Regions from separate parts of the Homo sapiens genome. Here regions 1, 3 and 4 are each linked to region 2. The links come from fine-mapping of genetic effects on gene expression. A gene starts in region 2. Each other region holds a variant in brackets. All regions are shown on one strand. Distances are from middle to middle. Region 1 overlaps ABAT (4-aminobutyrate aminotransferase). Region 2 holds the start of ABAT (4-aminobutyrate aminotransferase). Region 3 overlaps PMM2 (phosphomannomutase 2). Region 4 overlaps ABAT (4-aminobutyrate aminotransferase).

Evidence for each region. PIP is the estimated chance that this variant, and not a neighbour inherited with it, causes the effect. A credible set is the group of variants that fine-mapping cannot tell apart.
Region 1: its variant is the best candidate, but not a certain one, in a credible set for the expression of ABAT in whole blood (TOPMed, PIP 0.90).
Region 3: its variant is the best candidate, but not a certain one, in a credible set for the expression of ABAT in fibroblasts (GTEx, PIP 0.69).
Region 4: its variant is the best candidate, but not a certain one, in a credible set for the expression of ABAT in whole blood (INTERVAL, PIP 0.64).

What each region holds. Positions count from the first base shown.
Region 1 is chr16:8,779,196-8,787,494 of GRCh38, forward strand. ABAT (4-aminobutyrate aminotransferase) reads left to right here. Exons shown (of 16, transcript NM_020686.6): 15 at 284-395; 16 at 2,114-5,375. The coding sequence ends at 2,235. Among named protein-coding and RNA genes, the nearest start is that of TMEM186, 14 kb to the right of the region's middle. The variant C/G (reference allele first, on the strand shown) is at 4,802.
Region 2 is chr16:8,669,192-8,677,490 of GRCh38, forward strand. It overlaps ABAT (4-aminobutyrate aminotransferase), which reads left to right and starts at 5,426. Exons shown (of 16, transcript NM_020686.6): 1 at 5,426-5,520. RefSeq lists enhancers at 4,423-4,924, 4,925-5,424 and a silencer at 5,019-5,478.
Region 3 is chr16:8,835,819-8,842,300 of GRCh38, forward strand. All of the region lies in intron 7 of PMM2 (phosphomannomutase 2), which reads left to right. Among named protein-coding and RNA genes, the nearest start is that of CARHSP1, 30 kb to the right of the region's middle. RefSeq lists enhancers at 99-633, 634-1,166. The variant T/C (reference allele first, on the strand shown) is at 2,529.
Region 4 is chr16:8,724,213-8,732,511 of GRCh38, forward strand. The region is part of intron 1 of ABAT (4-aminobutyrate aminotransferase); the gene reads left to right. Among named protein-coding and RNA genes, the nearest start is that of ABAT, 54 kb to the left of the region's middle. RefSeq lists a silencer at 2,953-3,181 and an enhancer at 7,842-8,299. The variant C/A (reference allele first, on the strand shown) is at 4,922.

The DNA of each region.
Region 1 (8,299 bases), 110 kb after region 2:
GAGTGGCCCAAGGTTATACAGTGAGAGGGACAGAGCTGGGCTTGGTTGTTGTTGCTGGTGGTGGTGGTGGTGGTTTTTTTCCTCCACACAACACACATGTGCACAGCTGGGCTTTGAACCCAGGCCTGAATGTCCCCAGAGCTCTTAACCCCCTGGAGGTCCTGCCAGTCCATGCAGAGGCCGAGGCTGGACCATGGGAGGCCTTTGACGAAGCACAGCCATTAAGCCCAGCTGGTACACAGGTGATGGGCTTTGACGCCAGCCTTGTCTCCTCCCACTACAGGCCCGGTACCCCCAGTTCATCAGCAGGGTGAGAGGACGAGGCACCTTTTGCTCCTTCGATACTCCCGATGATTCCATACGGAATAAGCTCATTTTAATTGCCAGAAACAAAGGTAAGGGGTCAGGAGTGGCTGCTGAGTTTCATGAGCATCCAGTATCTCCTGCTGTAGCTGCCACATGTTGCTAGGTACTCAGCAATATTTTGTGTGGGGGGCAGGTGGTACACAGGTCTGAAAAGAGCCTGAATGCTCTTTCTCCAAAGAAGAGAACATTACAAATGGGATTTCTTTATCCATTTATTTACTCAACAAGCGTTCGCTGAGGAGGTGAGTTGTAAGTGGACACTGGAGACAGTTACAGTGATGATGAAGACCATCAGAGCCCCTTCCTTCAGGAAGCATGCAGTGTAGCAGGAAGGCATGGCTTTACACATGGCATTTCACAACCAATCCATTGCAATTTTAAGTCCTGGGAAGGAGAAAACGCAGCTAAGAGAGCAGATAGCTGCAGCAGTTGGTGAGGGTAGGAAATCAGGGCAGGCTCCCTTGAGGAAGTAGCATTTTACCCTAAGTCTTGACAAACAGGGATTGGCTGGGTGAAGAAGGTAAGGAAGAGCATTCTGGGCGGAGGGAAGGGTGCATGCGATGGCCTGAGGTGGGATGGAGCTTACAGAGGTGGTAAAAGGGAAAGAAGGGGGCGTGAAGGCGAACGGTTGGGAGGGGATGAAGCTGGGGGAGGAGAGGCCAGGCCCGGGTCGCATGGGCCTGCAGATCAGGCTTAGCACTCCAGACTTCATCCTAGGAGCTGTGGGAAGCCACTGAGGACATGTGTGGCAGGGGTAAGGGCAGACGCTGTGGTGAGATCAGAGCACGTACTCTATGTCAGGCACATTGTCAGTTCTTCTTGTGCCATCTTACAGAATCCTTGCAGCAGCCTCAGAAGGGCAGGGATAATCAACCTCCATTTTAAAAATGAGAAAACGTGGTCTCAAAGGCATAAACAGGCCGGGTGCAGTAGCTCACGCCTGTAATCCCAGCACTTTGGGAGGCCGACGTGGGCAGATCAGCTGAAGTCAGGAGTTCGAGACCAGCCTGGCCAACGGGGCAAAACCTCATCTCTACTGAAAATACAAAAATTAGCTGGCCGTGGTGGCGGCACCTGTGATCCCAGCTACTTGGGAGACTGAGGCAGGAGAATGGCTTGAACCTGGGAGGTGGAGGTTGCAGTGAGTGAGACTGGGTTGCCACTGCACCCCAGCCTGGGTGACAGCGCGAGACTCCATCTCTAAAAAAAAAAAAAAAAAAGGCATAAACAACCTCGACAAGGAAAGGACACCAGCTGTAACTGTGAAGTCACCCTTTAAAATAAGCAGAGCCTGTCCCTCCTCCGTAATAGCTCAGCACCTCACACATGCTTCCGACTCAGCCTGTGCTTTTGCAACTTATTTGCTTACCTATTTTCTTTTCCCACTCCTCCATGACTTTGTGGAAGGCAAGGACTTTATCTCAGGATTTCTCTATCACCAGACCTAGCTTGGGGCAGCAAAGCAGGCACTCAAAGGAGAGAGGGAGGGAGGAAGGGAAAAAGGAAGTGTGGAGGGAAGGAAAGGAAGAAGAGAATGATGGAGGAGATGAATGAGGGGAGAGAGAAAGGAAATGAAGACTGGATGGGTGGGTGGTAGGAAGGAAGCCCGGGCTTCCATGATGGAGGATGATGGATGGATGGATGGATGGATGGATGAGCGTTGCCAACAGGCATCACTTTCCCCCCAGCTCTCCCAGCATGTGACTTTGAGAAACCACGCTCCTCACCTACCTCCTGCCTCTTTCAGGTGTGGTGTTGGGTGGCTGTGGTGACAAATCCATTCGTTTCCGTCCCACGCTGGTCTTCAGGGATCACCACGCTCACCTGTTCCTCAATATTTTCAGTGACATCTTAGCAGACTTCAAGTAAAGAAGCCATTTCCACTACAGTGAGAAAGCCCGGATCCCAACAGTTGTCAAATTGATTAGTTTGCCTAATTCATGTTTTCACTTAAAAGTATCAGAGGTGAATGCACAGTGAAGGGTGATTTGTGGGGAGGGAGCATTTTTGGTGGTCTTGGGGGAGGGGAGGGGAGGGAAGGGCTGGTGTTGATTTTCCTCCCTGCAGAGCCAATGGTGCACATTGGTTTAAGCCCAGAGATCCTGCTTGAGCCCTGGACTCATCTTGGGAAGGGCCATGGGAGGTCCTGGCTAGAGTTCTGCCCAACCTTGACCAACCCCAGCAATTTTTCCAAAAGCCAGTCAAGGGCATTACATTTGTTCCTGGGACTGGCAGCTGGGCCTCCTGGGTGCCAGTCCATCTCAAGTGCCATATTCTGTGATCACGGATGTTGGCTCCCCCTCGCCCTATGCAAGCAAACACACTCTCACCTCCTCTCCCAGCCTCCCGGAGCTCTGAGCACGCCCCACGCATGGTGCAGGAGGGACTGGACAGATCTGAGGAAGGCCGTAAAATGGGGACAGGAGGATTCAGCTCAGGAGTAAGGGAAGAGGTCCTCTGGCCCCCTGAAGATGAGAATCACCCCTCTCAGTGCACCTGGGGATCCCCCTAAACTGTGAATTCTGCCCTGGACAGGGCTTTGCCCTTGGAGGATCCCCAGGTGGCCTTACCCGTGATTCTTACTCGGCATCCTCCATTCCCCAAACTCCCTCCTCCCTGTTAAATGTCAACCTAGACCTGGACCTGGGTGGGAGGAAACTGTAGCCTGAGTGTCCACAGGGACACACGTGAGCCACAGGGCTAGAAGCACAGGCCCGTCACCCCAGGAGGAAAAGCCCAGGGTCTGGGGCAGCAGAGCCATCGCATCATGTTTCCCAGGGCAACTTGAGGTCTGACTTTTGGCTCCCTCGCCCTAAGAGGCTCTTCCTCTCTTTTGCTCATCCACCTTCACACCACTTGTGAGCTGACCCCCAGGAACAGCTTGGCTGTTCCACCAGAGCAGAGGGAATCATTGCTGGACTGGATTTCTTCTGGAGGGAAGCACCATGAATTAAAGGTGCCAGAGCTCCATGCATGGAAAAGTGGCCTGTTGGTTCAACGTGGTTTCCTTGTACTTGATCCTCCTGAAATGAGAGATTTTCCTGAGATGACTGAGTATGGAGATTACCAGGCAGATGATACCGAAATGCTTAAAGGGGCTGTGGCTGAGGCTGTAGCATCTCTGCTGGAGGTGAGACACTCTGGGAACTGATTTGACCTCGAATGCTCCTAAAAGAGAACTTGATAGCCTGACAGCAGAGAAGTATTATTTGGTGGGGAGTCTGAGAAAGCCTGGCTTGTATTATCTGTCCAAAAGGAAGCCTCTTCATCTCCCGGTGCCTTGGTTGACTATTTTGGAAATAGGCATATCAAGGTTCCTGATTCAGCACTTTGCTCTTTTAATAACAAATCGTCCAAAGATCTCAAAGTAAGGGTTTTTTTTTTTAGCTTCCACTCTTCCGCAGACTTGGTCATCGACCTATTTTTGTTGAAGAATGAAAGGCAATGACAAGTTTAACATATACAAATTCGTGAATTCTTGTTCATTTTGCATTCCTGCAGTCAGTGCTAATCCGTCGTTCTTAATCAGGAGTTCTGCCAGGTTTAAGGTCACCTGCACTCCCAGCCAAGTGGTGATGTATGCCTCCCACTCTCTGCAAGGTTTTCCTCATTTTTATATTCATTTATTCATCATTCATTCATTCACCTAACTTTCATTAAATAGCTGCACCATCCCAGGCCCTGTGCGGAGCATCGGGAATACAAAGATGAGATAAAACATTGTCCCTGCCCCCGGGGGCTCACATGCCACTGGAAACAACAGACTCTTAAACTAACAATTCAAGCAGGCGCCAAGTGCTATGACAGAGGTGTGAATAAAAGCATCAGGAAATCGGATGGAGAACCACCATTCACCCAAGGGTCAGAGGAGGTTTCAAAGAAAAGGTGTCATTGGAGCAGTGTTTTGCAGAATGAGCCAGAGTTCACCAAGCAGGCAAGGCAAGGAAGGGTGTTGCAGAGAGGGAACAGCATATGCAAAGGCGTATCAGTTCATGGCATCACATCTTTCACTGGGGAAGCCAGTTTCCACAGGCAGCATCCCAAGGTTCAATAAGGCCTTATTTAACAAGCAAGCAAAATGCAAACCAAACCATTATTCATTTATTGGCTTAAGTATGCTTTCTCCTGAAAACTTTAGCATTGGGTGCAAATATTCAGTATGGTTCTCGGAGTCCAAAGGGTTTTAAGCCAGGGCACAACCAGAAAAGTGGCTCTCTTTGGTAGGGAGAGGGGCTCCAATATTTCGTTCTCTCCCCATGGGGCACTGACAGAGAAATGAAATAGTTTTATCTGGAAAATTCCAGAGCTATTATTTACTCCTTACCAAGGGAAGTTACTTCTTGTAAAAACTTTTAAGCCATTTATCAACAAGTTCTTGTTGACTCAGGGCATAATGAGTTCCTGAGACATGCTCTTTTGGGGGCTGGGGCTTTAG[C/G]TAGAAGAATTTCAAGGAAAAGAATTCTCAGCAGAGCTCAAGATTGTAGAAACTCAGCAGAAGCTGGTAAAAACATGGGGAGCCCGGAGGACAGGCTGCTGTCCAGGGCAGAGGCCATGAAGAAGTGCTTCCGTGGCCGACAGTCTGGAAATGAATCCATCATACATTAGTGCCATAGAGTTTAGTAACCGTCCAGCAAGTGTCATCACTTTTACAGAAAACAAGGTCCAGTAATAGCAAGTCTTAGTACATCCTCACTTTTATTATAAATGGGTGTTTTTTCATAATTTTTACTGACGCTCAGTAACCATGCAAAATTGTGTATAGCATTAATGTATCTACATACCTACACCTATCTATATATAAGCTCATGGTAGAAAACCATAGCTAAGTAGCATCGCAGACTTAAGCGTACAAAGTGATCTTGTTCACAAGTAATCTGTTGACAGTGCCAATAAATGATAAAAAAAAAATTAACATGTCACAATGTAACGGATGACCATATGCACAATTCCATGAATTAAATCTGTTTCCTGTGTTAGTCAGTATTCTTAAATAAAATTTATAATTGAAACATGAGTGAATGTGGACTTTTTTGGTGGAAATGGTCTTGTTAAATAATTAGGTGACAAGTACTTATTAAATGCCTGTTATATACCTCTTAGGGATGTCTTGGGGAACACTCTACATGCATAACTCTGCCTTGGGATCAGGAAGCACTGTAAGGCCATGCATTTCATTAAGTAAATCGAGGACATGCTATGTGACAGGGACACAAGGATGGACAACATGTGGTCCGTACTCGCAGCTCACATTCTTTTTTTTTTTTTTTTTGAGACAAGAGTCTAGTTCTTTCACCCAGGCTGGAGTGCAGTGACATGATCTCGGCTCACTGTGACCTCTGCCTCCCAGGTTCAAGCTGCCTCAGCCTCCCGAGTAGCTGGGATTACAGGCGCTCGCCACCGCGCCCAGCTAATTTTTGTATTTTTAGTAGAGACGAGGTTTCACTGTCTTGGCCAGGCTGGTCTCGAACTCCTGACCCTGTGATCCGCCCACCTCAGCCTCCCAAAGTGCTGGGATTACAGGCGTGAGCCACCACGCCCGGCCCCCCTTTTTTTTTTTTTTGGATGGAGTTTTGCTCGTTGCCCAGGCTGGAGTGAAATGGCACGATCTCGGCTCACTGCAACCTCCGCCTCCCAGGTTCAAGCAATTCTCTTGCCTCAGCCTCCCAAGTAGCTGGGATTACAGGCACCTGCCACCAGGCCCAGCTAATTTTTTGTATTTTTAGTAAATACAGGTTTCACCATGCTGGTCAGGCTGGTCTCGAACTCCTGACCTCAGGTGATCCGCCCACCTCAACCTCCCAAAGTGCTGGGATTACAGACGTGAGCCACTGCGCCTGGCCTCGCAGCTCACATTCTAGCAAGGTAAAGAAAAATAAAAAATAAAAATAAAAAAATAACCAAAAAAAAAAAAAACAGTGTAAGGAGCAGGACGTGGGAAAACACTGGATGCAGCAGAGGCACAAAGGCTGGGCCCCTCACATCAGTCAGGGTGGCAGTTAAGCCCCTGAGTTTCATCTTCAAGGCTGAGCAAAAGCTGCTCCAGAGTGATGGAAGGCATTCCACAAGAGAAGAGGTCCACGAAGGCACAGAGACAGGGCGACAGCAGGCGTCTATGAAAAGTTCAGTATCACTAGATCACAAAGAGTAGGAGACTAGAAGAGCCCAGAAAACAGGCAGGAGCTGGGCCCCTCGAGAGCCTTCTGTGCCACATGAGGGGCGTGGGCTTTCCATGCTGGTGATGGAGCCGCCAGAGGCTTGATGCAAGGGAGCAAACCGAGGGGTGTTTTAGAAAGATTGTCCTGGCTGGACGTGGTGGCTCACACCTATAATCCTAGCACTTTAGGAGGCTGAGCCAGGAGAATCACTTGAAGCTGGGAGGCGGAGGTTAAGATGAGCCAAGATCACGCCACTGTACTCCAGCCTGGGCGACAGAGTGAGACCCCGTTTCAAAAAATATATATAGAAAGGTTGTCCTGAGTGTTCACGGTGAAGAACAGGGAGGCAGGGAGGCCAGTTAGGAGTCTATTGCAGCCACGCTCACCTGGTGGCCTGAATGAATTAGGAAAATAATGGGGACGGAGAGAGAGAAAAGTAGAGAATCCAAAGCATCCGGGACGGTGATTCTCAACGCTGGACGCGCTTAGGAATCACCCGAAAGAGCTTTTTGAAAAGTGCCACTGGCCAGGCACAGTGGATCCCACCTGTAATCCCAGCACTTCAGCAGGCCGAAGTGGGCAGATCACCCAGCTAATTTTTTTGTATTTTTAGTAGAGATGCGGTTTCGCCATGTTGGCCAGGCTGGTCTCGAACTCCTAACCTCAGGTGATCCTCCCACCTTGGCCTCCCAAAGTGCTGGGATTACAGGCGGGAGCCACCGTGCCTGGCCATCAAAGGGTTACTGACCTTGAAGTTCCGGTGCCTTCAACTCACCTACCTTAGGAATGTGCATGTCGGAGCTCACACTCAACGCCGACCAGGTCAAGTTGACCTTCCAAGGCTGATGGCCAGGCTGGCCGAGAGAAAGTTCCTTGAGCGATTGACAGTTCCTACCCTCAGCTAGTCCTGAGTTGACTGCACACAAGTGCACATACACTCACATCTGTCCACATGCTAATATTACAGCATCCTTCCACATCAGTGTGTATCAAATCCTAACTTTCAAGTTGTGTGATTGGGAGCAGATTCCCTTAACCTCTCCAAGCTTCAATTTCCTCATCTTAAAAACAGGCATACAAGACTGGGTGTGGTAGCTCATGCCTGTAATCCCAGCACTTCAGGAGGCCAAAGCGGGTGAATTCGCCTGAGCTCAGGAGTTTGAGACCAGCTTGGGCAACACAGCAAGACCCTGTCTCTACTAAGAATAAAATTTTAAAATTTTTATTGGCATGGTGGCATGTGCCTATAATTCCAGCTACTTGGGAGGCTGGGGTGGGAGGATTGCCTGAGCCCAAGAGATTGAGGCTGCAGTGAACTATGATTGCACCACTGCACTCCAGCCTGGGCGACAGAGTGAGACCTTGTCTCGAAACAAAAAAAAGTATACAAATAGTAAGTCTTCACTTAATGTCACAGATAGGTTCTTGGAAATGGATGGCAGGTCCTCGAAAACATCATTTCATTCAAAGTTGTCTTGTTATAACATTGTTTCTTTCAACATCTTACTATTATGATGAGGAAAAAATATTGGTTTCATTGTATGTCGTTTAACTTATAATCAGTTTCCCAAAACTTACTGATGACATTAAATGAGGATTTACTGTACCTACCTCACCCGTCTGTTGTAAAAATTATAAAGCACTGGCCGGGCATAGTGGCTCACTCCCATAATCCCAGCACTTGGGGAGGCCGAGGCGGGCAGATCACTTGAGCCAGGAGTTTGAGACCAGCCTGACCAACATGGTGAAACCCCGTCTCTACTAAAAACATATAAATT
Region 2 (8,299 bases):
CGCAGTAGGTGCTAAATGTGTATTTGTTGACTGAACAAATTGATGGAAAAATTACTAAATGAATGAATGAGCTCTGGCCCACCTCTCACAATCAAGCAGATAGTTTGGTGAAACTAGTACAACTATGTACAGGGCTAATGCACAGTGCCCAGCAGGGACCAGGAGCAAACTTCCCTTACTTACCCAACCAATGACCTACTGTGGTACATACTTTTTTCCTTATTATGGTAAAATACACATTGCACAAAATTCACCAATTTTTACCATTTTAGAGTGTACAATTCAATGGCATTAAGTACAATCAAAATGCTTTTTTGTTGCTGTTGTTTTTGAGATGGAGTCTTGCTCTGTCACCCAGGCTAGGTGGAGTGCAATGGCACAACCTTGGCTCACTGCAACCTCTGCCTCCCAGGTTCAGGCAATCCTCCCACCTCTGCCTCTTAAGTAGCTGAGACCACAGCCACACACCACCACACCTGGTTAATTTTTGTATTTTTTCTAACAGTGGGGTTTTGCCAGGTTTCCCAGACTGGTCTCAAATTCCTGGGCTCAAGTGATCCGGCAGCCTTGGAGCTCCCAAAGTGCTAGGATTACAGGTGTGAGCCATTGCACCTGTTCCCCCTTCCCATGTTTTCTTCTAAGAATTTTATAGTGTTAGGTCTTATATTTATTTAGGTCTTTGATCCAATGTTGAGTTAGTTTTTTTATATGGTGTGAGGTAAGCGTCTATCTTCTTTCTTTTACATGTGAAAACGTGGTAGATACTTTATTCAATTTACAGATTAGAACATAGAGACTGAGAGGGAGTAAATGACATGTCCAGAGTCACATAGCCATTGGGAGTTGGAACTAGAATTCAATATTAGGTCTGACTCCCAAGTTGATCCCCTTTCCACCACATCAAAATGCCCTTTATTATTTTGTATAGATGATATCTCTTTATTATTTTGTGACCAGGGATGTGGAAATCACAGGCCTAGTCAATAAAATATGTGCTTTAATCTGGCTCTGGACAAGTTATTCCTCCTCTCTGGGCCTCAGTCTCCTCTTCTGTACAATGGGCTGCTGATCTCTAAGAGTCTCTCCTGTGGAGACAACTGGTACCCTTGGAGCCTCATTCACCCTTGCCTTTGTTTTCATTTCTCCTCTCCAGAGTGCAGTGGGGGCCCTCCCAGCTACAGCTGCGCTTCTGGAAGGAGCTTATTGATAGGCACAGAGTATGGGTGAGTCTTCATCCCAGGCCTCAGCCAAACTCTGGGAAACACTCTGCATTCCCTGGCAGACAGCTGCAACCCCAAGCAGCTCCATAGGAAAACTGCAGAATGGCAGAAAATGCAAGGGAAGCCAATATGGAAAGGGCTTTTTCCACATGCTGACAGTTTTCTTCACAAGTATCACAATGAAGCTATTTGAGAATCAGCTTGCAAAGCACCTGGCTCTAAATAGCCTTCTCTCCCTAGTCCTTAAGTAGAGACAAAGCAGCTCCTTTTATCCTCTAGAAGTGCCCTTTCCTAGGGCCTGACCCACAAATGGGTGCTCAAAACCTAGTTGAATGAATGAATGAACAGATGAATGAAGATGGCTACACACACTTCTTATTTCCCTTGATTGCCTTAGACCAGGACACGGCAGATTTTTCGCAAAGGGCTGGAAGGTAAATATTGTTGTCTTTTCAGGTCACAGAGTCTCTGTCACAGCTACTCAGCTCTGCTGTTGTAGCTCACAGACAGCCATAGACAATGCATAAATAAATAGGCCTGGCTGTGTTCCCATAAAATTTTATTTATGCACAGTAAAATTTGAATTTTATGTAGTTTCTATGTGTCACATAACATTATTCTTCTTGTGAATTTTTTTAACCATTTAATATGTAAAACCAATCTTAGCTCATGGTCATAGGAAAACATGATGAACTACATTTGGTCTATGAGCTATAGTTTGTCAACCTTTGGCTTAGACTCTTTTTTAAAAAAAAATTATTTATAAATAGAGATGGGGTTTCGCCATGTTGGCCAGGCTGGTCTCGAACCCCTGGCCTCAAGTGATCTGCCCGCCTCAGCCTCCCAGAATACTGGGATTACAGGTGTGAGCCACCACTCCGGGCCCTTTGGTTTAGACTTTTCCTTTCTGTTTTTCATTTTAAATATTTTCTTCTTAGTACCAGAGTAATATATATTCATTACAGAATAATTAGAAATTAGTGACATTGTAAAGTTTATCCTCTATTAAAAATAAACCCAAGGGGATAAAAAGAAATTACTGACATGGACATGCAAATAAAGTAATATTAGAATAATCTATAATTTCAATACACAAAAATAACCATTCTCCTACTGAACACAGTTTTTCACTCAGCATTGCTAGCTAGCTATATCGGTGCCTTTTAATATGATAGCCACTAGCTACCTGTTACTGTTACACCTTAAATTAAAATTAGATACAGGCTGGGCGTGGTGGTTCACACCTGTAATCCCAGCACTTTGGGAGGCTGAGGCAGGCAGATCACTGGAGGCCAGGAGTTTGAGACCAGCCTGGCCAACATGACGAAACCCTGTCTCTACTAAAAATTAAAAAATTAAACAACGAGCCAGGCGTGGTGGAGCACGCTTGTAATCCCAACTACTCAGGAGGCTTAGGCAGGAGAACCGCTTGAACCTGGGAGGCAGAGGTTGCAGCGAGCTGAGATCACACCACTGCACTCCAGCCTGGGTGACAGAGCGAGACTCCGTCTCTAAAAAAATAAATAAATAGATACAATTAAAATACAGTTATTCGGTTAACTAGTCATTGCTTTTTCCAAAATTTTAAATTTATTTTTCCCTTTTCCTTTTTTTATTATTTCTTTCTTTCTTTTTTTTTTTTAAACATCTTGGATACCAAAATTAGTCATTTCAGGTGTTCAATACCTCCATGTGGCTAGTGGCTACCACACGGGACGGCACAGATATAGAGCATCATAGAAAGTTATATTACACAGCATTGATCTAGCTCTACCTGGTAGATTTAACAAAAAGTAAGATGTTTAACAAAAAGTAAGACAGTACCAAATATACTGTTTTTGCAAATAACTTAACATTTTGAGATTTGTTTTGTTTTGTTTTTGAGACAGGGTCTCACTCTGTCACCCAGCTGGAGTACAGTGGTGTAATCTTGGCCCACAGCAGCCTCAACCTCCCAGGCTCAAGGCTGCCTCAGTCTCCTGAGTAGCTGGGACTACATGCATGCGCCACATCGCCCGGATAATTTTTGTATTTTTTGTAGAGACAGGGTTTCACTATGTTACCCAGGCTGGTCTTGAACTCCTTGGCTCAAGCGATCCTCTTGCCTTGGCTTCCCAAAGTGCTGGAATTACAGGCGTGTCACCACACCCAGCCCCATTCAATATTTCATACCTATGTTTATTGTTCAATTTCATGCAACAATTTCCCTCTGAGTCCCTGCTGTTGTGCATTCAAGTTGTTCCCAGTTTTTCCCTGTGATAAACAAAATGGTAGTAAGCTACTTTATCATTAAATCTTTGTACCTTTAAATGTTTTCAGATAAGTTCATAGGGATTGGATTGCTAGATCAAAGGGTCAACTTACTTTTAAGATTTTTAAAATAGAAATACCCAATTTCCCTCCAGAAAGGCTGTGATCTTTCTACTGCCATCATCAATACATGAAACTCCTTGAAGTCTTTGCAAAGAATAGTAATTATAATAATAAAAACAAGGTCATTTTGGTAGGTAAACTCTTTCCCTCTTTTGGTTTTAACTTGCCTTTCCTTTTCAAAGTGTCATCTCCCATGTTTATTGGCCGTTGTATTTCTTTGGGCAGGTCAAGGGTAGTAAAGGGGATTATGTTCATGGCTTTGGTTTTAAGAAAAAATTGCTAGATTTTCAGCACAGGCCTCATCAAGTTCCTCAAGCAAGGTGACAATCACCCAGGCTAGAGTGCAGTGGTGCCATCTCACCTCAGTGCAACCACTGCCTCTCCATTCAAGCGATTCTCATGTCTCAGCCTCCCAGGTAGCTGGGATTACAGGCAGGTGCCACCATGCCAGGCTAATTTTTGTATTTTTAATAGAAAGGGGGTTTCCCCATGATGGCCAGGCTGGTCTCGAGCTCTGGGCATCAAGTGATCTGCCTGCCTCGGCCTCCCAAAGTGCTGGAATTACAGGCGTAAGCCACTGTGCCAGGCCTCAATTATTCTTATTTACTGCTCTGTGTGTGTGTGTGTGTGTGTGTGTGTGTGTGTGTGTGTGTGTTGGGGGGGAGGGTCCCCAGAGGTGACACTAGGAGGTGAATGATTTGTTTGGCAGCTTTCTATTTATCTATGTGTTTACTTTATCTTAATTCTTTAATTGCAAGGACTATAGCGCTTGTGTAATCAGAGATAGGGCAGCCTGGATTCCTGGACAGCAGGAGGAGAGACCTCAGGGTTCTACAAGACTCCACAGACCAAGTTATCAGTGATCAGGGTGAGTGGGGAGAACCAAGCTGAACTCTTTCTCTGCCTTTAAGGTCTGTACTCTCCATCCATCCATTCATTCATTATGAGGACTTGGTGATCGCCTGTTGTCTTGATGAGCAGTTCTTTGTGTCTTTGATTTTGTCACTGAAAGATTGCATCCTCTTTCCAAATACCTCTAGAAAGCTGTGGGGGGGCTATCCATCCGTCACACCTGAGTATTAATTATCTTCCACACAGCATTTTATACAACGGTAGAAAGGCACCTTCATCATATCTAGGGTCTCGTTTATACCCACGAAGGAGGTACAATCTCTGTTGTCCCAATTTCAGGAAATTGAGGATCAGGAGGCGCAGTGACCTGCTCCAGGTCATGCAGAAGGAACCACCTCTGACTCCCAGCGCCCTGTTTGTCTTCCGGAGCGCTGGGGCCAGGCGGAGGAAAGTAGCTGGGAGCAAGAAGGGCTGGCAGGGCCCTGAGCGCCGAGATGGGGAGTGAGGTGGGGAGGGCGGGATGCTCCTTCCCTTCTCCGCAAAGGAACCCCTTCTGATTCCGACTCTGGAGCTCCAGAGACCGGATCCGAGACGCGGGTGGAGGTGGAGTTACACTCGCCTGCAGCCCTGAGGGTGTAAATGGCCCATTAAGATCCAGGTTAAATCAACCTATGGAGCTGCCCCCCAGAGGGTCAGGGTCCCCACAACTTGACGGGGGTCCTCAGCCGTCTCCTCCCCAGTCCCAGGACTCCCTCCCAGCCCTCGCGGTCCCTCTGGTGGGTCCCGCCCCAGCCCCCGTCTCCCCCGCCCCCGGAGGCTGGACTCTGCCCCCGCCCCGCCTGCCACCTCCCTCCTGGGGGCGGTGGCCCGTGGCGGGCGCACCCATTGGCTGTGGCGAAAGCGAGGGCCGGGGCTGGCGGCGCTGATTGGCCGGGACGCTCGGCGGAGCCAGGGAGTCCGGCGAGTCGCTGGGGGAAGTCGAGCAGACACCCAGCGCTGCCGGAACTCGGGGCGCGCATCCCGCAAGTCGGAACCCGGCGGATCGGATCCCGCAGATCGGAGACGGGGCCTGGAGGTGAGCGCGAGGCGCCGGGTGGCTTGGGACGGGCCCTTCCGAGGGGAGCCGAGAGGAGGTCCTTCTGCCCTGCCCCCAGGAGCAAAACCTGGGCATCTTCTCCTGGAAACGGAGCCCTCATCTTCCCAAGACGCGGGGCCCTCCCCCGAAAAGACAGGGGCTCCCACCCCCCAGAGAGCAAAATACCTTCCTTTCTCCTTCAGAAATGGGCCCTTCCTCCTGGCTCCAGCTCTAGACAGAAGTCCTCTCCCTTTTACCGCTTGAAATAGAATGCGGCCCCAAAAAGTGGTCTCCAGGTCTCTAGAGCCCCCTCACCTCTTGGGAGACTGATGCCCCTTCCCCATCCTTAGAAAACTAAGTTTGGGTGTCTTCCTTCTCCCCTCTCTTTCGGAATAATGGGGGTCTTCTCAGCTTATAAATTACAGTGACCTCCCCCTCCATGACAAATGGAAGCTCTCCCCCCATCATAAGACAAGGAAATCCCGGAGCAGAGACTCTGCAAGTCACCCTCCCACCCCAGATACTGGGCTCTGGAGAGATAGATGATTCACCCTTAGCCCTGCCGGAGACCCCTCCCTACCCGTCAGAGAGGCAGGGTGGCCTCTGACACCACCACATTAAAGGCTTTTGGGGATTTCCCCTCTCCTCCCCAGTAAAGATGTAAAATGAGGGACCTTCATACTCAGGAGCAGGGCAAAGGTCTGGCCACCCCTCCAAGTCATCCACCTCCCTCCACTCCACCCAAGCCCTTTCACACAAACCCCATCCTAGTAACCCCCTGCACCATCCTCCCACCGCTCCCAATCCCATCCTTCTCCACCTCACCCCAACTCCACTCCCACACCTGGCTGCCCCACCTATTTCACATCCTCTCACCTTTCCTCACCCACCCTGGCCAAGGTAAGACTAGAGGGGGTTCAGCGAGATTTAGTAAGACTGGAGCTCTTAAAACTGGGATCTGGGGCCTAGAGGCCCTTCCAGGAGTCTTCAAACTCTGACAACAGAGATGGCCTCTGAGGCAGCAGGACCAGCAGAGACCACCCGCCACCTCTCCCCCGCTCCCTGCCCCAACACACGCACAAAGGCTGTGTTCAATGCATTCTCTCTTGCAGTCTGGGAGGACAGCTGGCCCTCTTCCAAGAGGGCCCGCATTTCCCCCCTAAAGTGTGCACCCCCGCAAGCGCCTGTGGACATTGCCTGGTGGAATTCCCTGGGCACTCAGCCAAGAGAAATGGGTGCTGCTGGGCCCATCCACTGGGGAGGAGACAGTGTTGGCTTTGCTGCTTTGATGAAGCTAGACTAAGGGACAGGATGTTGGTGACCTGGGGGTGGGGAGGGGGTGGGAAGAGCTCTTCTCTGGTGGGTCAGGTTGGGAGGCAGGAGAGAGGGAGGCAGTGAGTTGTGTCTTGCTCTTTGGAGCCTGTGTTGCGGCGTGGAGTCATAGAGAAATGTGTTTTCTCGAGGCCCAAAGAGGTTAGCCACGGGGAGAGGTAAATGGTCCAGTCTGGAGTCCTAAGACCTAAAAGGGCTTCTGCATTAAAGACGTGGCCCCTTCATTTGACAGTTAAACACACAGAGGCACAAAAGGGGAAGAGACTTGCTCAAGGTCACCCAGCCTGTGGGAGACAGCTGGCCCCAACCCCTCCAGGACCCTTAAGGTGCTAGGATCCCTGACACAAGCCCCAGTCCTCACATTTACAATGGGGACTTGGGGACTGCTGGGTCCCAAGTCCCCACTTGTCAGAGGAAGCGCCAAGGCTCTGCAAAGGTCATGAAGCCAGGAAGGGGCAGAGCTGGAACTCAATGCCATCCCCCAGCAGGCTGCCTCGTGGAATCCATTCCTGGGTGTCAGCGCATCCCTGCTTACCCCGTGCGATCTTTGTGTTGAGGCCATTGCCAAATCTAGGCTTGCCAAAATCCAAACTGACCCAGGATAGCTAATAAGATCAGTTGCAGCTAATGAGAATGAGATGCTGGAGTGGAGGCTACTGCAGGAACCTCACTTGCATAGCTGGGTTTGCTCCAAGAACTTTGGACAGGTCCTGAGGATGTCATATTCCTTCCCTCCAAGGTCCCCTCCCTCTTAGCCCCTGCCCACGCCCTCTGGCTTTGAGTTCCCTGCACATTGTCTCATCTCTGTTCAGAGGCCTGCGTCTTTTCTCCTGGGGCATTGCATGGGAAAAGAGCTGAAATTCTGGCAGATTCTCTAGGACCACCCAGCTGGGCAGCATGGTCTGAAGTAGAGGCTCTCTCTGTTTCTGCCCCCACCCAGTTCCCAGCTAAAGGATTGGTTGTTGTGCCCCAACTTTGCCAAGGCGAAGTTCAAAGCATGAGGAGGACCACGGTAGAGAGGCCGAGAGGTTGGTCCCTGGAGACCTCTTATCTGGGTCGAGAGCACAAATCTGCCACTTAGTGTCTGATCTTAACCTCTCTGTGACATATCCTTGGGGTAAAATGAGTTAATCCTCATAAAATGTTTAGCACACAGCAAAATGAGCAGAAACAATGATTACAAGTGCAAAGTCATAAAACCTCTAATCATGAAGTGGGGAGGTGCTTATGCCTTAAGGCAAAACTTGTAACCCTTGCCGTAGATAATCTGCCAGGGCCAAGGTGCCTGGGGACAAGGGGATGTCTTCCTAGAGAGACAGTGTAGTATGTGGAATGGACCACAGACCCTGAAGCCAGATGGAGTAGAGAGTTGGCCACTGGTAGTGGCTGTCTATGGAAACTTAGGCAAGTCATTCATGTCTCTGAACCTCAGTTCCTCGTCTTTGAA
Region 3 (6,482 bases), 170 kb after region 2:
GCATGATTGGTTGCCAAGGAGGGAGTAGAGGTATCTTATACTTGTGGGTTAAGGTTGGGGGATACAAGAGGAGGACACAAAGGAGGCTTTGGATTGGGAAGAAGGGCGGCAATGAGATGTAGCTGTAGTTCAGGAATACTCAGGGAAGCAGATAATTTAAAGTGTCTCGGCCTAATAAGGGAACTGGGCAGGTGGGGATAACTGAAAAGGAGTGCTTAAAAGAGTAATGTCTAAATTGGCACCAGAGTTGGGGAGTTTTAAGAGGTTTAGAAGCCTGGCCGTCAATACCCACAACAGTTACGGAGGCAAGGGAAACAGGCCCTTGAAAAGAAGGTAATGTGGAGTGGGTAGCCTCCGTATTGATTAAGAAGGGGATGGACTTACCCTCCACTGTGAGAGTTACCCGATGCTCGGCGTCCGTGATGGTTTATGGGGCTTCCGAGGGGATTGGGCAGTGTCAGTCTTCAGCTGCTAAGCCGAGATCTGGGAAGGAGTCAGAGAGCCTTGGGCCAGAGTTCCAGGGGCTCTGGGGAGTGGCTGCCAGGTGAGTTGAACAGTCTGATTTTCATGGGGTCCCGCACAGATGGGACGCGGCTTAGGAGGAATCCCGGGCTGTGGGCATTCCTTGGCCCAGTGGCCAGATTTCCAGCACGTGTAGCAAGCTCCTGGGGGAGGAGGTTCTGGAGGAACGCCTGGCTGCTGCGGTTCAGGCGTTTGGAAGTTCTTGTGTGCTGGAGATGTGGCTGGGGTTTGTCTCACAGTGGAGGCAAGGAATTGCCACTTTTTTCTATTACTGTCCACCTTGAAGGTGAGGTTAGTTAAGTCCTGTTATGGGGTTTGAGGGCCAGATTCTAATTTTTGGAGTTTTATTTAATGTCGGGAGCAGATTGGGTAATAAAATGTATATTGAGAATAAGACGGCCTTTTGACCTTTTAGGGTCTAGGGCTGTAAAGCGTGTCAGGGTTGCTGCCAAACGAGCCATGAACTGGGCTGGATTTTTATATTTGATGAAAAAGAACCTAAACGCTATCTGATTTGGGATAAAGAAAAAGGAGCATTAACTTTGACTATGCCTTTAGCTCCAGCCACCTTTTCAAGAGTAAATTGCTGGGCAGGTGGGGGAGGGCCAGTCACAGAATGAACTGTAAGCTGGTCCAGGTGTGAGGAGGGGAGGTGATAAAAGGATTATAGGGTGGAGGAGCGGAGGCTGAGGAAGAATTGGAACCTAGCTCAGCCTGGCGAGGAGGAGAGGTCAGATGGGTCTGTAGAAAAGGAATATTAGAAAGACTCAGCGACGCTTGGGGTTGCGACTGAGGGGACAGGTGGGAGGGAAAGAAGGAAGATTTGGGACGAGTTGCACTGGGCACAGAGACTAGGAAGGGACTGATGTGTAAAAGAATGCCTGGACATCAGGCACCTCAGACCGTTTGCCCATTTTACGACAAGAATTATTTAGATCTTGTAGGATGGAAAAACTGAAAGTGCCGTTTTCTGGCTATTTGGAACTACTGTCGAGTTTGTATTGGGGTCAAGTGGAATTGCAGAAGAAAATAAGGCATTTATTTAGGTTTTAGGTCAGGTGTGAGTTGAAGAGGTTTTAAGTTCTTAAGAACACAGGCTAAGGGAGAAGAAAGGAATGGAAGGTGGAAGCTTGCCCATAGTGAAGGAGGTAAGCCCAGAGAAAAGAGTAGAGACACGGAGAAGGGGTGGGGGGTTCTTGCCCTCCAGAAAAGCAGAGAAGGGGTTGGGGCACGGAAATAAGGGATTGGGGCACAGAGATATAAGAGATTGGGGCGCAGAAATAAGGGATCGGGGCGCAGAGATACATGGGGTTGGGGTACTTACCCCTCCCCTAGAAAAGCAGAGAAGGGGTAGAGACACGGAGAGAAGGGGTTGGTGTACTTGCCTCTCCGCCAGAAAAGTGGGACTTGCCGCTAAGGGTGAAGGACCAAGGCAGGCGTCCCTGCATGGTCTGACACCTTTGAAACGTGGGTAAATAATCAGGCGTCCCTGCAGTGATTAAACACCAAGGGAAGGCTGCCTTCCCAGTCTCTGACCGGCGCCGGAGTTTTGAGTCCACAGATAAAATGTGTCTCCTTTGTCTCTACCAGAAAATGAAAGGAATTGAAATTAAGGGAGAGATTGAAGTGTTTCATGCGCGTCCGTGTGAAGAGACCACCAAACAGGCTTTGTGTGAGCAACATGGCTGTTTATTTCACCTGGGTGCAGGCGGGCTGAGTCCGAAAAGAGAGTCAGCAAAGGGTGGTGGATTATCATTAGTTCTTATGGGTTTTGGGATAGGCGGTGAAGTTAAGAGCAATGTTTTGTGGGCAGGAGTGGATCTCACAAAGTACATTCTCAAGAGTGGGGAGAATTACAAAGAACCTTCTTAAGGGTGGGGGAGATTACAAAGTACATTGATCAGTTCGGGTGGGGCAGAAACAAATCACAATGGTGGAATGTCATCAGCTAAGGCTATTTTTACTTCTTTTGTGGATCTTCATTTACTTCAGGCCATCTGGATGTA[T/C]ACGTGCAAGTCATAGGGGATGCGATGGCTTGGCTTGGGCTCAGAGGCCTGACATTCCTGCCTTCTTATGTTAATAAGAAAAATAAAATAGTGTTGAAGTATTGGGGCGGTGAAAATTTTTGGGGGGTGGTATGGAGACAGAATGGGCGATGTTTCTCAGGGCTGCTTCAAGCGGGATTAGGGGCGGCGTGGGAACCTAGAGTGGGAGAGATTAAGCTGAAGGGAGGTCTTGTGGTAAGGGGTGATATTGTGGGGATGTTAGAAGAAACATTTGTTGTATAGAATGATTGGTGATGGTCTGGATACAGTTTTGGATGAATTGAGAAACTAAACAGAAGATCCAAGGTCCAAATAAAAGAAGGAGAAAAATGGGTATTAAAGGACTAAGAATTGGGAGGACCTAGGACATCCAATTAGAGAGTGCGTAAGGGGGTTCAGCGTAATTACTTGCTTGGTTGGCAAGTTTTTGGGCTCTATGCTTGAGTTTTTTTATGTTGTCATACATCAGGCCAGATTGATTTAGGTAAAAACAACACTCTTCATTTAAGAATATGCAGAGTCCTCTTTTTTCAACAGTGAGTAAGCAAGGCCTCGGTGGTTTTGGAGGACAACTGCAGCTAAAGAGTCAACTTGGGCCTGGAGGACTGATAAAGTTTGTGACATGTCTGTGATGCTAGCAGAGAAGTCATTAGACAGGCTACGGAAGGTCATGACAGAGGTTGAAATGCCTGCTATTCCAGTACCGAGAGCAATAGTGGAGGCAGAAAGTCCTAAACCGACCATCAAGGGAATTAGTGGAATGACTCTTCTTTGTTGTGTCGGTGTCATGAGGGGAACAGGGAGCTCTTCGTTCCTATTTGCAAATTGAATTTTGGGAGTAAGGAAGACTAGTGTGCATGTGCCTGTCCAATTAGCAGGTAGACACATGTTAGGTAAAGGATCCACAGAGGAAGAAGAGACCTTGTGCGAGGCAAAACTGGAGATGTAAAGTAAAAAGATGAGGAGTGCTGCAAGGGGTGTCTTGTACCTAGAGTCCTAGGGATCCAGCTAGGGCGGCAGCTGTCAGAGGTTGTAATGGGGACTGATGGGGTAACTGCATAGAGGGGGAGGTTCGATTTTCATGGTGTATGAGAAAACGTTGAGTATCTACAAGCAACCTTTCACTATTATTTTCGGGGCTGGGTAAAAGTAAACAAGAGGAGGGCCTGGGAGGAAGAGTCTGATGAGCAAGGGGAAAGTAGCCAAGGATGGAGTGAAATACAGGGCAAGTGTCTTCCTAAGCAATAATTACTGCTAATGTTTTTAAGTTTGTCAGTATTGATAGCGGGCTTGTCTGTAATATGGAGCTGGAAGGCTCCCATTGTTTGAGTGATGTGTGTAGTTGGACTTTGGAGATGAAGAGTAAAGGAACATCGAGAAGGTGAAAGATTACCTAGGGGAATTCCAGTGGGTCTTTGCCGAGAGATACATATAGGAGCGGCCACAGGCATAGTAGTTTGTGTTGTGAGAGGTCCGAATATGGGGGGAGAAAGGAGAAAGGAGAAAGGTTTTTTAAATAAGTGTGAAGGAGGGCGGCAGCTTGCTGATGTGAAATGTCTGGGGAAGTCTTGCTGGACCTGTCTAGAAAGTAAATGAGTTCTTCAGGAGGGTAAAGGTGAGGGCTGTTACAGGAAGTTCGGAGGTGTAGGGAGATGGGAGATGTTGCCCAGTCTGTCTGTAAGGTGGGGACAGCTGTGTAGGCACTGGAAGAAAGGGAAATGCAAAGCCAGCAGTTGTTCACTAAGGAGGGATTAGAAGCGGCTAGGAGAGAATGGGTAAGGTTGATAGTGTGGTGGAGATAGCTGGGGAGAGGTAGAGGGTGGCATAAGAATGGGAATGAGAATAAGAGTGAGTATAAAAGTAAAGAATAGAACTTCATCAGGGTGGAAATATTGGAGGGTGCCTTGCCAGCAAAGATCATCTATCCACTCTAAGAGGGAGTTAAGAGTGGCAGTTTGGGGATAGCACCAAGAGATATCAGCTGTGATGGCTTGAAGAAACAGTGTAAACCGGCCGTGTAAACAAGAGTAGGGCATTTATAAGTAGTTGAGAATGGAGAATAGGAGTATGACCAGACAGAAGATAGTAGGGATGACTAGTTTTTTGGGGCTCGGCCTAAGTGGTGGGGGTGACTTCGTAAAGCCCTGTTGCAAAAAGTAGGGTAAGGACGAAAAACCTAATAGAATGAAGGGATGTATTAGGCTCATAAGGGTTATGACTGTTCTTCGAAATACGACTGAGTTTAAGGGAAGTAGGGGAGAGTACTTGCAACTTCCAGGAGGAAGAGGAGGGATTAGGCTGGCTGTCCGATGGACACAGCTTTATTCTGGAACGGTGAGCCTAGTGGGGAGGATCCTGCAGGCGGACAGCAGTCGGGGTACTATAGATGACTAAGTAGGGTCCGGTCCATCGAGGTTGTAGAGTTTGAGGAGTCAGATTAACAAGAACTGATCGTCCAGCTAGGGTGTCTTCATATGGCTGGGGATCTGGAGTAGGCAAGAGAAGCTTAGCAGCCTGGCGAATTTCCTGTCTAGCCTGCTGGAGGACTGGAAGACAGTCGCCTAGAGGGCTGGTGTCTGGGATGAGGTTGGGGCCAAGCAAGAAAGTGCGTCCATATAAAAGTTCAAATGGACTGTACCTACCCTGTAGCATCTCGAGAACAGGCTCTAATTCTGAGAAGAGCAAGAAGTAAAAGTACTGTCCAATCCTTTTTAAGTTGGAGGCTGAGCTTGGTGATGTGTACCTTTAAAAGACCATTAGTCCGTTCTACCTTTCCTGAAGATTGAGGACTGTAAGGGATATGAAGGTTCCACTGAATACTAAGAGCCTGAGAAACTGCTTGGGTGATTTGACTAGTAAAGGCTGGTCCGTTATCAGACTGTATAGAGGTGGGAAGGCTAAACTGAGGAATTATGTCTGACAGAAGGGAAGAAATGACTGCGGTGGCCTTCTCAGACCCTGTAGGAAAGGCCTCTACTTATCTAGTGAAAGTGTCTACTTAGACTAAGAGGTATTTTAGTTATCTGACTCGGGGCATGTTGAGTGAAGCTAATTTGCCAGTCCTGGGTGGGGGCAAATCTTCAAGCTTGATGTGTAGGGAAGGGAAGGGGCCTGAATAATCCCTGAGGAGTAGTAGAATAGCAGATGGAACACTGAGAAGTTATTTCCTTGAGGATAGATTTCCACGATGGAAAGGAAATGAGAGGTTCTAAGAGGCGGGCTAGTGGCTTGTACTATAGCATAGCCTGCCTTTGCTGCTATGTGGCGATTAGGCCTGGTGGAACCGCCATCAATAAATCAAGCGTGATCAGGGTGAGGAACAGGAAAGAAGGAAATATGGGGAAATGGGGTGAATGTCAGGTGGATCAGAGAAACACAGTCATGGGGGTCAGGTGTGGTATCAGGAATAATGTGGGAGGCCAGATTGAGGTCCGGGCCAGGAACAATGGTAATTGTGGGACTTAACAAAGAGTGAGTACAGCTGAAGGAGCCGGGGAGCAGAAAGTATATGCATCAGGTATGAGGAAGAAAATGGATTTTGGAAGTTATGAGAAATGTAGAGAGTGAGTTGAGCATAGTTTGTGATTTTTACGGCCTCTAAAAGTATTAAAGCAGCGGCAGCCGCTGCACGCAGACATGAGGGCTAGGCTAAAACAGTAAGGTCAAGTTGTTTGGACAGAAAGGCTACAGGGTGTGGTCCTGGCTGTTGTGTAAGAATTCTGACCGCACTAACCATGCCTAGGAAGGAAGGGAGTTGTTGTTTTGGAAGGGATTGAGGTTTGGGAGATTAATCAGACAAGATCAACAGGCAGAGCACGTGTGTTTTTATGAGAATTATGCCGAGATAGGTAACAGATGAGGATGAAATTTGAGCTTTGGAGGGGGATACCTGATATCCTTTGGAGAGTAAATGCT
Region 4 (8,299 bases), 55 kb after region 2:
TATGGTGCACATAACAGACATCACTAATCTATCACATTTTTTCCCCTGAAAACCTAAAAGAGTGCTTCCTGCTAACAGGTCAAAAAATAATGAAAAATAAAAAATAAGTAAAGCTAAAAGAGGCCGTAAAATCTTTTTGTTCGCTGCTCCAAATAGGCAATACTCATTGGCCAGCACTGGCACGTGTTGTAACATTTATTTGCCATTTCAATACTGCACAGAAAATTAGCTTCTCTCAGCTAGGCATGGTGGTTCACACCTGTAATCCCAGCACTTTGGGAGGCCAAGGTGGGAGGACTGCTTGAGCCCAGGAGTTCAAGATCAGCCTGGGCAACATGGTGAAACCCCATCTCTCCAAAAAAGAAATACAAAGATTAGCCAGGTGTGGTGGCATGTGCTTATAGTCCCAGCTACTCGGTAGGCTGAGATGGGAGGATCACTTGAGCCTGGGAGCCAGAGGTTGCTGAGATGGCACCACTCCACTCCAGCTTGGGCAATAGAGCCAGACCTTGTCTCAGGAAAAAAAAAAAAAACAAAAAAAAAAAAAAAAAAAAAAACAATGGCAATCTTGGGGTCACACAGCCTGTAGCAGGTGGAAATTGAAGAATAAGTCTGTGTGATCAGAGTGTGTCATTACTCTACACACACTTCTTTGGTCCTCTCCCTTCCCATCTACAAAAGACAGCCAACTCCAATATCTCTTTTTTCTTTTTTTTTTTTTTGAGATGGAGTCTCACTCTGTTGCCCAGGCTGGAGTGCAGTGGCGCCATCTCGGCTCACCGCAACCTCCGCCTCCCGGGTCCAAGCGATTCTCCCGCCTCAGCCTCCAAAGTAGCTGGGATTACAGGCGCCTGCCACCACGCCCGGCTAATTTTGTATTTTTAGTAAAGACGGGGTTTCTCCATGTTGGTCGGGCTGGTCTCGAATTCCTGACCTCAGGTGATCTACCCGTCTCGGCCTCCCAAAGTGCTACGATTATAGGCGTGAGCCAGCGCGCCTGGCTTTTTCATTTTTATTAAGATAAACATAACATTAACCTTTTTAAGTGAAAACTCAGACCCTTTTAGAACATCCACAATGCTGTGCAGCCACCACCGCTATCTAATTCCAGATTTTTTTCATCACCCCGGAGACCCCCGTACCCATTAAGCAGTCATCTCTCATTCCTCCCAGGCCCCTGCCAACCCCTGATTTATTTTCTGTCTTTGTAGATTCACCTACTCTTGAAGGTTCCTATAAATGGATTCGTAGACTATGGGGCATTTTACCTCTGCATTCATTCATATAGCATAAAAAATATTTTGAGATTTATCCATGTTGTAGCATGTGTCAGAACTTCATTCCTTTTTATGACTGAATAATATTTCGTTGTAAGGATAGACCATGTTTTGTTTATTCATTCATCCACTGATCGACATCTGGGCTTTTTCTACCTTTCGGCGCTTGTGAATAGTGCTGCTATGTGTATTTGTTTGAGTCTCTGTTTTCAGTTCTTTGGGTTGATGCAAAGGTCATTTCCTTTTGCACCAACCTAGTACTTAGGGGTGGAATTGCTGGGTCATGTAGTAGTAATTCTATGCTTAACTTTTTGAGGAACTTGTAATTCTTAAAAGGCCATGCCAACTCTAGGACTGAGGGTTTAAGAGCTAATCCCTGCCTTCTTACTCCTCATCAACTCCCACCCCAGTGGGTGCCCTCCAACACACCTGCCTCGAGAACCCCCTCCCCAGCTCAGTGACCCCAGCATCTCATTGACATGCTGAGTGCATGCTCCCTGCCCCTCCCTGGGAGCCTGCCTAAACACAGACCCTTCTATTCTTTCTAATTTTTTTTGTACCCATTAACTATCCACCTCCCATTCAACCCGCCACTACCCTTCCCAGCCTCTGGTAACCATCCTTCTACTCTCTATGCCCGTGACTTCAATTGATTTGATTTTTAGATCCCACAAATAAGTGAGAACACATGCCACTTGTCTTTGTGTGCCTGGCTTATTTCACTTAACATGATGATCTCCAGTTCCATCCACGTTGTTGCAAATGACTAGATCTTTTTTTTTTTTTTTTGAGATGGAGTCTCGATCTGTTGCCCAGGCTGGAGTGCAGTGGCGCCATCTCGGCTCACTGCAACCTCTGCCTCCCGGGTTCAAGCGATTCTCCTGCCTCAGCCTCCCTAGTAACTGGGACTACAGGCATGGGTCACCACACCCAGATGATTTTTGTTTTTTGTAGAGATGGGGTTTAGCCATGTTCGCCAGGCTGGCCTCATGGGATCCACCTGCCTCAGCCTCCCAAAGTGCTGGGATTACAGGTGTGAGCCACTGCGCTGAATAGTACTCCATTGCGTGTATGAACCACATTTTCTTTATCCATTCATCTGTTATTGGACACTCAGGTTGCTTCCAAATCTTAGCTATTGTAAGCAATGCTGCAACAAACATAGGAGTGCAGATATCTCTTCGATATACTGAGTTCCTTCCTTTTGTGTATTTACCCAGCAGTGGGATTCCTGGATCATATGGTAGCTCAATTTTTAGTTTTTTGAGGAACCTCCAACTGTTCTCCATAGTGGTTGTACTAGTTTACATTCCCACTAACAATGTACAAGGGTTCCCTTTGCTCCACATCCTCTCCAGCATTTGTTATTGCCTGTCTTTTGGATATAAGCCATGTTAACTGGGGTGAGATGACAGCTCTTTGTAGTTTTGATTTGCCTTCTCTGATGATCAGTGATGTCAAGCACCTTTTCATGTGCTTGCTTGCCATTTGTATGTCTTCTTTTGAGAAATATCTATTCAAATCTTTTGTCCATTTTTTGATCGAATTATGAGATTTTTTTCTATAGAGTTGTTTGACCTCCTTTTTATATTCTGGTTATTAATCCCTTGTGAGAGGAGTAGTTTGTAAATATTTTCTCTTGTTCTGTGGGTTGCCTCTTCGCTTTGTTGGTTGTATCCTTTGCTGGAGGACAGACCCTTCTGGATGCAACTAGAGCAGCTGGGCTCCCTCCTCCCTTTGAGAGGGTCTCCAGAGGGCCCTATCAATCAAGATCAGCCTAGAAATTGTTGCTCGAGTTGGCTCCAGATGACCGCACCTTCACCTTCCCTCCAAGTGCTCTATGATTTCTTACCACACCCACTCTCACTGTGCACCAGGATCCTTAGCTACTCCGTGTCATCATACACCTCCGAGCACTTGCCTTATCCCTGCTTTCTTCATTGCCTTCTGAAATCGCCTAACTTTTGAAGATGCAGCTCAGGCAACACCTCCCTGACATTGTCACCCCAGCCAGAAAGAATCTCCCCGTATTCCCTTAGCACTTCACTCACACCAGCAAAATAGTTGTGATTCTGTTCTATCTTATGCAGAATTTGTTGTTGACAGTGAACTGGAAAATTTTTATGTACATATCATGCTGAGTTATTTTAAGAAAGTATTCACATGATGGGTAAAGCAGCCTAGTACATTAAATTCTTCCATTTTCTTTCCGCTCATAGTTCTCTGCCACTAAATTATGAGCTTCAGAAAGAAAGCAATTTATCCATCTTGGTTTCTCCTAAGAGAAGTGATGACTTGGCCAGGAGCGGTGGCTCATGCCTGTAATCCCAACCGTTTGGGAGTCCAAGATGGTAGGATCACTTGAGCTCAAGAGTTTGAGACCAGCCTGGGCAAAATAGCAAGACCTCATCTCTACTAAAAATTTAAAAAAATTAGCCAGGCATGATGGCACATGCCTGTAGTCCCAGCTACTTGGACGGCTGAGATGGGAAGATTGCTAGAGCCCGGGCGATAGAGGCTGCAGTGAGCCCTGATCGCCCCACTGCACTCCAGCCTGGGCGACAGAGTGAGACCCTGTCAGAGAGAGAGAGAGAGAGAGATTGATTATATCTAAACGATGCAGTGCCTTGCTGATAACAGGTGCCTAATTAACTTGTGTTGATTGAATTAGTGGATGAGAGGGAGTGAATGAATGACGTTAACTCTTCCAATTGTTTGAAATATATTGTGCTAAGAATTAATGTCTAACAGAGATCAGATTTTGTTATAAGGTCAATTTTCAACTGCAGGCCACCAAAATGTCACCACGGTATATTTTCCAATGTGACATTTTGTAATTGAAAACGTGTGGGATTGGCTCTCACTTTTGCAGAATATTCAAATGTTGAGTTCTCTGAGACATTCGGAGTTTCAAAAACGTGTTTAATGGAAATTGAATTGTGTGACGCCTCAGTGCTCCCTGTTTCAGACAAGTGGTTTTAAGGGAAAGACATGAACTGCACTTTCTACACAGTTACTCTGTTGCTAAATTAATAGGCTTGCATTGAGTCGGATATCCTGGAATAGAAAAAAAAAATCCATTGAGTTATTAAGAAAAGAGTTTGGGCCATGCACAGTGGCTCACACCTGTAATTCCAGCACTTTGGGAGGCAGAGGCGGGTGGATCACAAGGTCAGGAGATTGAGAACCTTCTGGCCAACATGGTAAAACCTCATTTCTACTAAAAATACACAAATTAGCCAGGTGTGGTGGCACATGCCTATAATCCCAGCTACTCGGGAGGCTGAGGCAGGAGAATCGCTTGAACCAGGGAGTCAGAGGTTGCAGTGAGCCGAGATCACGCCACTGTACTCCAGCCTGGCAACAGAACAAGACTCCATCTCAAAAACAAAGAGTTTGGTTTCTCAGTTAATTCATGGCCACACTTTCCAAGCCCACACTTTCTCAGAAAGTTTCCTCTGGTGAAAAGCAATAAAATTTATTCTGTGAACTACGTCATTTTTATTCATGAAGCCTCATATCAACAATAGCTAGGGGCCGGGCACGGTGGCTCACGCCTGTAATCTCAGCACGTTGGGAGGCCAAGGCAGGCAGATTACTTGAGCTCAGGAGTTCAAGACCATCCTTCACAACGTGAGAAAAAC[C/A]TGGCTCTACTGAAAAAAAAAAAAATTAGCTGGGCGTGGCGGCGTTCGCCTGTAGTTCCAGGTACTTGGGAGGTGGCAGGATGGCCTGACCCTGGGGGAGGCAGAGGTTGCAGTAAGCTAAGATTACACCACTGCTCTCCAGCCTGAGTGACAGAGCCAGACCCTGTCTCAACAAAAACAAAAACAGCTAGGAGTTTTGTTATTAGCTGGATTAACTGATGTTACAATGCATAGAGGCAGGGGCTTTGGGGTCAGACAGTCTCAGGTAAGCCTATGACTGAGGCCGAATGTCATAACCTCTCTGAGCCTCCCTTTTATCATCTCTGAACAGGGAGATTACCCTACTCCTATAGATGTTTGAGCAAAGAGAAGGGAGTAATGTACCCTTCAGAATGTCTCACAAAGACCAGGCACCATGCCTCATGCCTATAATCCCAGCACTTCAGGAGCCAAGATGGGAGGATCATTTGAGCACAGGAGTTTGAGACCAGCCTGGGCAACACAGCGAGACCCCTGTCTCTAAAAAATATATATATTTAAAAATTAGCTGGGTATGGTGGTGCATGCCTGTAGTCCCAGCTACTTGGCAGGGCTAAGGTGGGAGGATCTCTTGAGCCCAGGAGTTCAAGGCTGCAGTGAGCAATGATCACGCCACTGCTCTCTAGTCTTTCTTTTGTCTAGCCCTTTTTTGTCTTAAAAAAAAAAAAAAAAAAGACCCTGTTTGAATGCTGGATCATCTCAGTGGGTAGAGAGTGTCAGGACTCTGGCCCAGCCCTGTCTAGTCAACCATGGCCAGTAGGGCCAGGTCTATGCCCCCGCAGAGGAATGGGGAAGTATCTGAGAAGGGGGAGGAAGGAAGTGCAGAGCAGACACCCCAGAAGATACTTCCTGCACCAACCCCACCCCACCCGTGATAGTACCTCAGTTGCCTGAAGACAGGATAATGACCTGTCTCTGTCTTCTAGGAGCTGCCTCCTAGGGCTCTGGGGATGAAACGAGATGGTTCTACAGCACCAGCTGAGAGCCTGCACATAGCAAGTGCCCAGTACTTGATGATGCTTAGAGGGTAAGGACGGCCTCTAATTGATCTTTATGTGCCCTAGTGCCCAGTGAAGGGTCTGGCACACGGTAGGTGTACCATGAATGTTCGTAGCACAAATGCATCAATGGCAACCGCCTCCCTCCTTCATTCACTCTTTCCTTCTAATAATACAGCCAACATTCTATTAGCTCTGTGGGCAGCCACAGCGTGCTGGAACTCGCCATCCTGGGCTCGGTGCCTGATTCTCCACACTATTCCTGCCCTGTGCTGCTGAGCCCACGTGTTTCCCAGCACCTGAACCTGTACTCTGAACCCGCCTGTCATTCCTCCTTGCCCTGTTCTCTCTCCTTGGATACAGGCCTCCCCTCCAGCTGTGGGATCTCTCTAGGTCTGTATTTATCACCTCTGGTTGGCACTTCCTATATGCTGTCATCACAGAAGCAGGGGGTGGGAGAAGCCTCTTGGTCTTCATCCAGGTCTAGGATGGAATTTCTGTCCACTGTGGGGCTGGGTAGAGTTAGGCAGCCCAAGCCAGGGCTGCATGAGGAAAGGGCTGCGTCCCCAGGGTCTGTCACAGAGTAAGTTTCAGGTGTTGCAACTCGCAATAAATCCATGCATTAGGCACAAGCCAGGACTCCTGAGCCAGATATCTCTCAACCCCAACGCTGGCTCCACCAGCAACTTGCTGTGTCCTGGGTAAACCACATGGCTTCTTTTAAAAAAAATAGTTTTACTTTGTTTACTGTCCAAAGTACTCATTAATTGTTTATTTATCAAGAGAAACTATTTCTAATTTTTTGTGTGTGAGACGGTGTCTCACTCTATCACCCAGACTGGAGTGCGGTGGTGTGATCTTGGCTCACTGCCATCTCCGCCTCCCAGGTTCAAGCGATTCTTGTGCCTCAGACTCCTGAGTAGCTGGGATTACAGGCGTGCACCACCACACCCAGCTAATTTTTGTATTTTTAGTAGAGACAGGGTTTTACTGTGTTGGCCATGCTGATCTCGAACTCCTGACCTCAAGTGATCCACCTGCCTTGGCCTCCCAAAATTCCGGGATTACAGGAGTGAGCCACCCTGCCAGCCCAAAGAGAAACTATTTCTTAGCCCCCATATTCATGTTTCATAGTTCAGGAACACAGGTCAGTGATAAACTTCTAGGTAACTCAACCCAAAGAAATTCTTTATATTCCAAAATCACTTTGCACTCTGAACAATAACAGCCATCCTCATCGCTTCTACATATGCCTTGTTTCTTGGTTCAGCCACAGCAAACTTATAGAGAGCTGCAACTCTCAGGGATACAATGACTGCTCCAACAATGTGAAATGGCAGACTCTGGACCAGAAGGCCACACACCTGAGTTTTGTCAAAGCACTGGAAGCCGTGGTAGTTGTCTAGTTGTCCTTGATAGGTATGTCAACCTCAACACCAATGTCTTTCCTGGATCACTTTTCTTTTTTTTTTTTTAATTGTTATTTTAAAAATCACACAGATAACATAAAATTTACCATCTTCACCATTTTCAAGTATACAGTACGGTATTATAAGCACTTTTGTTGTATAGTGAAGCTCCAGAACTACTTCATCCTGCAAACTGAAACTCCAAACACACTAAACAATGTCCTTTTTTCCCTTCCCCCAGCCCTCGGCAACCTCTTTTTCCTCTTTTTCTGTTTCTCTTTTTTTCCTCCTTGAAACAGAGTCTCGCCCTGTCGCCCAGGCTGGAGTGCAGTGGTGCGATCTCAGCTCACTGTAACCTCTGCCTCCCGAGTTGAAGTGATTCTCCTGCCTCAGCCTCCCAAGTAGCTGGGATTACAGGAGCTCACAACCACGCCCGGGTAATTTTTTATGTTTGGTAGAGACGGGGTTTCACTATGTTGGCCAGGCTGGTCTTGAACACCTGACCTCAAGTGATCCACCCATCTCGGCCTCCCAAAGTGCTGGGATTAGAGGCATGAGTCACCATGCCCAGACCCTCTATCTGTTTCTAGGAGGTTGACTACTTTAGGTTTTTTTTGTTTTTTTTTTTTGTTTGTTTGTTTTTTTAATTTATTTATTTTTTATTGATAATTCTTGGGTGTTTCTCACAGAGGGGGATTTGGCAGGGTCATAGGACAATAGTGGAGGGAAGGTCGGCAGATAAACAAGTGAACAAAGGTCTCTGGTTTTCCTAGGCAGAGGACCCTGCGGCCTTCCGCAGTGTTTGTGTCCCTGGGTACTTGAGATTAGGGAGTGGTGATGACTCTTAACGAGCCTGCTGCCTTCAAGCATCTGTTTAACAAAGCACATCTTGCACCGCCCTTAATCCATTTAACCCTGAGTGGACACAGCAC